2 linked regions of the Homo sapiens genome follow. The protein of the gene in region 1 interacts with the protein of each later gene in a biochemical or structural test. Each region holds a gene or a part of one and is shown in the gene's direction. Other genes may lie near its edges.

Region 1 (3,821 bases):
AATCAGGGCTTCACCCTGCCACACAGTGCTGTCAGTGTGCCCATCCATCTGTCCCTCTCTGTTTCCACCCACCCAGGGTTAGCCTTTATACTTGCTGTTTGAGGTTGGTGAGGCTGGTATGGCTGCACAGGAGTGAGGCAGAAGACATCAGAGGAAACAGGCTGGGTCGTGAAGCCTGCTGGAAGGTCTTTACTCGGAGTGAGATGAGAAACCAAGCCGGGATTTTAAGCAGGAGAATGGCCCTGTTTGGCTCAGGTTAAGGGCTCACTCCAGTTGCTATGGGGAGAATGGACATAGGGAGATGGGGCAGAAACAGGGAAACTGGTAGGAGGCAGCTGCAAAACTCCAGATGGGACAGATGATGGTGGCTTGGTGTTGGAAGCTGGGCTAGTGCACCTGCGCTATTTTGGAAGGCACCATTGTGCAATATAGCAGCTCAGGGAGGTAATGGTGAAGGTGGCCTGATGTAGTAGGATTCTGGATATTTGTATAAGGCAGAGAGAAAAGAATATGCTAATGAATAGATTTTGGGGTGAGAGAGGAATTAACGTTGACTTCAACGTTTTGACCTGAACAACTGGAAGGATGAGATGGCTATTTACTGAATTAGAGAAGCTGCCAGGGGGAGCAGGTTGAGGGACTCCTATCCTATGCTAAATCGTAGATCATCTTTTACACAGTCTTCTAAAATTTTTAGTTTTGCTTTTCACATTTAACTCTTTAATCCACCTGGGGTTGATTTTTGTTTTTAGTATGAAGTAGGGATTCATTTTCAAAAACTGTAGATGGCTTTTGTGAGTTTTAGCCATTTAAGAAAGTAGTAAAACTGAGGCTTGAGGAAACTTTAGGCAGCTTGCCCAGCTGTATAAAGAGTGAGATGACGAGCTCAGGCATTCCTTGGGCATCTGTGTGCCCAGCCCTCAAAATAATGGAACAACAACACCAGAAATCTTTCCCCAGTAGGGATTCATTTTCAATTCCTTCTTTATGTGGGTTACTGACTGCCTCAGTACCTTTTATTGAATAGGCTCATCTTTCCTCCCGGTGACCTGCAGTGGTACTTCTGTTATCCATCAGGTTTTGACACATGCATAGATCAGTTTCAGGCTCTATTCTGTCCATTGGTCTAATATTACATTTTTAATCACCAAAGTATTATAAGTAGCCTGATATCTGGTCAGGCAATACTCCCACTACCACCCCTCCACCACCATCACCAGTTAATGTCTTGGGTTTCTAGGCCCTTTACTCTCCCATACAAATGTTATTAATAAACAGAAATTTCCATGAAAAACCCTGTTGGGATTTTGATTGGAAATACATTGAATCTACAGCTCAATTTAAGGGCTGTTGTCAGCTTTATAATGAATTTTCTAATATATGAATATGGTATATACCTCCATTAATTTAAGTCTTCCTTCGATATCTCTCAGTAACATTTTGTGATTTTTTTTTTTCTATAAACATCATGCAGGTTTTTTTGTTAGACTTACTCAGGAGAATCTCTTTTTTTGCTGCTGTTGAAAATGATATCTTTTTAAAATTATATTTTCTAACTTTGCTGCTGATACCGTATACACAAATGCAATTTTTGTTTTTGTATATTAATCTCGTATCCAGAAGCTTTATGCAGCTCACCAATTAATTCCAGTAATTAGTTATTGATTCTTTAGGAGTGCTTTTGAATAGTAATAATGGCTACATTTATGCATAGTATTTAACATATGCCAGGTACTGCTCTGAGTACTTTATATATATATTTTATTCTGCACATGAATCCCATGTGGTAAATGCTACAATTCCCATTTTTTTTTCCAGATAAAAAATAATTGAGTCATGGAAAAGTTAAATAACTTAATTAAGGCCACACAGATAGGGACGGTCAGAATTGGGATTTAAACCCTGCCAGTCAGAGGCTAGAGTTTAAATTCCTAAACACTAGGCTTTTCTTACCTTTATATCAGCATCTGGCTGACCTCTCTAGGACAATGGTGTCTATAAGCAGGAAAAACAGGCATCCTTATCTCCTTCTTGATTCTAACATTACATCATTAAATATAATATAGTCTGTTTTCATACTGCTGATAAAAACATACCTGAGACTGGGTAATTTATAAAGAAAAAGAGGTTTAATAGACTCACAGTTCCATGTAGCTGGGGAGGCCTCACATCATGGTGGAAGGTGAAAGGCACGTCTTACACGGTGGCCGACAAGAGAGAATGGGAACCAAGTGAAAGAAGTTTCCCCTTATAAAGCCATCAGATCTCATGAAATTTATTCACTACCATGGAAACAGCATGGGGGAAAATGGAGCTGGCTCTGGGTCTTAGTCTGGCTTTGGGTGTCCTGAGAGTTTGGTGAACTTCATGTGGGGAGAGTATTGGCATGGCCGTGAGTCCTGGGTGTATAGGCTTCCCACAGACAGGGCTGCGGGGGAACCATGTGGGATGGCCTGCAGGAATATGGCCACGGTGAGTGGCCCTTTGTGTATTTTCTGCCTCCCAACTCACCGTGGCTCCAGCTTCAGAAGGAGGTCAGAGCAGAACACCCCTGTGGGCTAACATGAAGGTCCTCATCTGCTCCATGCAGCAGGGCTGGGAGGGGAGAGTAGAGGGTCAGCCCATGGTAAGGACAAGCCACATACAAATCAAAACCTTGGCTGGGCTCACCTGGACATTGTGTCTTTGAGTCACAGAGCAGGCAGAATGGTAGCTTACGTCCTGTCCTTTTCCCTCTGTGTCCAGGTATCCAGGGATCCCTGAACCAGCTTACCAAGGATTTTCTTTTTTTCACTTCTTTCCATTGTTGGAATTCTGATTTCCTCTATTTGGTGTCTTCCTCTTTCTTGGTTTGCTCTCTTGTCTTTGGGGTGGATTCCATCTCCCAGCTTGATGTGACTGTCATTGGAGAACACAGCCCTGTAATGATTTCAATCCTTTGAAATTGTTCAGATTTGCTTTAGAGCCCAGTAGATGGTGATTTTTGTAGATGATCTGTGTGTGCTTAAGAATAATCTCTCCAGGCCGGGCGCAGTGGCTCACGCCTGTAATCCCAGCACTTTGGGAGGCCGAGGCGGGTGGATCATGAGGTCAGGAGATCGAGACCATCCTGGCTAACAAGGTGAAACCCCGTCTCTACTAAAAATACAAAAAATTAGCCGGGCGCGGTGGCGGGCGCCTGTAGTCCCAGCTACTCGGGAGGCTGAGGCAGGAGAATGGCGTGAACCCGGGAAGCGGAGCTTGCAGTGAGCCGAGATTGCGCCACTGCACACCAGCCTGGTGACAGAGCAAGACTCCATCTCAAAAAAAAAAAAAAAAAAATCTCAGGAGGCGGAGCCAGGCAGATCACAAGGTCAAGAGATCGAGATCATCCTGGCCAATATGGTGAAACCCTATATCTACTAAAAATACAAAAATTAGCTGGCATGATGGCGCATGTCTCTACTAAAAATACAAAAATTAGCTAGGCGTGATGGCGCACGCCTGTAATGGCTTCTCAGGAGGCTGAGGCAGAAGAATCGCTTGAACCCGGGAGGCGGAGGTAGGCGGAGGTTATAGTGAGCGGAGATCGCGCCACTGCACTCCAGCCTGGTGACAGAGCAAGACTCCCTCTCAAAATAATGATAATAATAATAATAATAACAATCTCTTGGGTAAGGGATTCTGCATTTGTCTATAGAACAGGCTTGTTAATAATTTCTGCACAAATCTTCTAATCCTTATTAATATGCTTTGCTTGATCTATTAGTTACTAAAATATGTGTCTTTAAATCTCCCTCTATAATAGCAGCTTTGTCCATTTGTCCTGTGGTTCTGTCAAT
Region 2 (3,226 bases), on another chromosome or scaffold:
TAATCCCAGCTACTCGGGAGGCTGAGGCAGGAGAATCGCTTGAACCTGGTAGGTGGAGGTTGCAGTGAGCCGAGATTGCACTACTGCACTCCAGTCTGGCGGACAGAGCAAGACTCTGCCTTAAAACAAACAAACAAAAATGAATAGATAGGATAAAAAATTAAAGATAATATGTAAAAAAAAAAGATAATATATAAAAAAATGAGTGGATAAACAAAATGTGGGCTATGTGTACAGTGAAATATTATCTGGGCCAGGCGTGGTGACTGTAATACCAACACTTTGGGAAGCGAGGCAAGAGGATTGCTTGAGCCCAGGAGTTCAAGACCAACATAGTGAAACCCCATCTCTACAAAACGTTTTTAAAAAATTAGCCAGGTGTGGTGGCATATCCCTGTAATCCCAGCTACATGGGGGGCTGAAGTGGGCGGATCACTTGAGCCTGGGAGGTCAAGGTTGCAGTGAGCTGTGATCGTGCCACTGCACCCTAGCCTGGGCAATGGAGTGAGACCCTGTCTCAAAAGAAGGTTAAAAAAAATAATTTCTGCTTGGGGGAATGGAAGAATTTTGGAAATAGATAGCTGTGATGGTCACACAATGTGGATGTGCTTAATGCCACTGAATTGTATACTCAAAAATGATTAAGATGGCAAATTTTTTGTGTGTGTATACACACACACACACACACACACACACACGTCTTTTTTTTTTTTTTTTTGAGATGGAGTCTTGCTTTGTCCCCCAGGTTGGAGTGCAGTGGCGTGATCTCGGCTCACTGCAACTGCCTCCCAGGTTCAAGTGATTTTCCTGCCTCAGCCTCTCGGGTCACTGGGACTATAGGCACCCGCCACCATGCCCCGCTAATTTTTTTTTTAATTTTTTTTAATTTTTAGTAGAGGTGGGGTTTCACCATGTTGGCCAGGCTGGTCTCGAACTCCTGACCTCAAATGACCCACCCACCTCGGCCTCCCAAAGTGCTGGGATTGCAGGCATGAGCCACCACGCCCAGCCTTGTTATGTATATGTTACCATAATAAAAAAATAGGAGGGTGTGCTGGGGATGGTGGCATGGAGAGCGTCTCTGAGGGGTTCCCCATGACCCTCTGCTTGGGCCCTGCCAGGGTGGATGAGGTGAACTGGTCTCACTGGAACCAGAACTTGGGCATCATCAACGAGGACCCGGGCAAGAATGAGACCTACCAGTATTATGGCTTCTCGCATACCGTGGGCCGCCTCCGCAGGGGTGAGTGGAGGGGCGGGTGCGGAGGGGAGCCCCAGTCCATTCTCATCACGAATTTGCTTTGAGCAGTCCTGCTTCTTTCCGGGACTCAGTGTCCGTGTCTACAGAATGAGAGAGTGTGCCCCTGAGCTTCCTCTGCTGCTTGTGAATGCCTGGGGCACCTCACCTACGTGGCTTCATCCTGGCCCTCCCTACTGTTGACATAAGCTGGCCTGGGGAGGGAGGACGAGCTCCTCAGCCATCCCTGTGTGGAGAAAACCTTCCTGTTTGTCCAGTAAGCCATGAGCACGCGAGACGCAGCTGGAGAGGACACAGGCACTCAGGGCATTCGGCTCCAGGCTTGAATCCTGGTTCCTCCATTCTCTCCTGGGGAGGCACCTTGACCTCTCTTGAGCCCCAGTTTCCACCTCTGTAAAATGAGCATAGTCACATCCCCCCTTCAGAACACTGTGGAGTGCCCAGTACACAGTAGGCACTCAATATACGCACGCTCTCTCTCCACCAACCCCCACCCCTCCCTCTGATGTGCTCTCGGTGCAGATCGCTGGTCCTCGGTGGTACCCCGCGTGGTGGAACTGAACAAGAACTCGAACCCGGACGAGGTGGTGGTGCCTCTGGACAGCATGGGGAACCCCCGCTGCGATGGCCACCAGCAGGGTTACCCCCGCAAGTGGAGGACTGATGACGCCCCGCTCTAGGGACTGCAGCCCAGCCCCAGCTTCTCTGCCCACTCATTTCTAGTCCAGCCGCATTTCAGCAGTGCCTTCTGGGGTGTCCCCCCACACCCTGCTTTGGCCCCAGAGGCGAGGGACCAGTGGAGGTGCCAGGGAGGCCCCAGGACCCTGTGGTCCCCTGGCTCTGCCTCCCCACCCTGGGGTGGGGGCTCCCGGCCACCTGTCTTGCTCCTATGGAGTCACATAAGCCAACGCCAGAGCCCCTCCACCTCAGGCCCCAGCCCCTGCCTCTCCATTATTTATTTGCTCTGCTCTCAGGAAGCGACGTGACCCCTGCCCCAGCTGGAACCTGGCAGAGGCCTTAGGACCCCGTTCCAAGTGCACTGCCCGGCCAAGCCCCAGCCTCAGCCTGCGCCTGAGCTGCATGCGCCACCATTTTTGGCAGCGTGGCAGCTTTGCAAGGGGCTGGGGCCCTCGGCGTGGGGCCATGCCTTCTGTGTGTTCTGTAGTGTCTGGGATTTGCCGGTGCTCAATAAATGTTTATTCATTGACGGTGGAGATGGCAGGATGATGGCAGGGGTGGGAGGGATGGTAACAGGCATGAGACTGCAGCGAGGGAGATGGGAGAGCTAGGAAATGCCTGGGGGGAGCCAGGGGCAGGGGTGAGAGTGAGGGCAGAAGTCCTGACCGGGAGGCATTTAGAGTGTTGGTGGTTGGGGGCTGGACTGGGTGGTTGTGATGGTGGTGGTGGTGGCCTGAGAGGTGGCTGAGGTTGGTGTGGCTGTGGGGAAGGTGGGGGTGGAGGGAGGAGAGCAGAGTGATGCTGGTGGGGGTAATAATGCTGGCCAGGGAGAGTCATGTTGGCAGGGCGAGAGTGATGCTGGTGGGGGTGACAGTAGTGCTGGCTGGGGGATAATGATCCCCATGGAGACAGTACATTTGGGCAGGGGAGAGTAACGCTGGCCAGGGGTTGACAGTGCAGGTGCGGGGACTCTGGTGCTCATCAGGGGACAATTATACTGGGAGGGCTGTCCTGCTAGGCGGGAGGATGGTTGCCAGGCAGCACGGAGCAGGCGTGGCAGTGGGTGAGCCTGGAGTGTCAGCAGGGTGCTGGGTGTGCATGCGGGTCGCTGTGGTGAGGACCATGGTGGCAGGGGCGATTGGCAGTGCTTGTGGAGCTGGGATGGGTGGGGGTCATGGTGCTCCTGGCTAAGTGGGATGGTGCCTCCTTGAGGACTGCCTGCCTGTGTCTGTCCACAGGGCCACATGCCACCTGGAGCTGTGAGCCATGAGCCGGAGGTGAGGCTGACCC

The links.
Region 2: the proteins of CIMIP4 (region 1) and TRPV4 interact in a test that uses a peptide from one of them, tested with the Homo sapiens proteins (one large-scale study listed by BioGRID).

Annotation. Positions count from the first base shown.
Region 1 is NC_000022.11:36,994,131-36,997,951, reverse strand, and holds part of CIMIP4 (ciliary microtubule inner protein 4), read left to right. Parts: intron 1-3,821.
Region 2 is NC_000012.12:109,782,333-109,785,558, reverse strand, and holds the end of TRPV4 (transient receptor potential cation channel subfamily V member 4), read left to right. Parts: intron 1-1,121; coding exon 1,122-1,243; intron 1,244-1,780; coding exon 1,781-1,938; 3' UTR 1,939-2,470; downstream 2,471-3,226. UniProt on the Homo sapiens protein: Non-selective calcium permeant cation channel involved in osmotic sensitivity and mechanosensitivity. Activation by exposure to hypotonicity within the physiological range exhibits an outward rectification.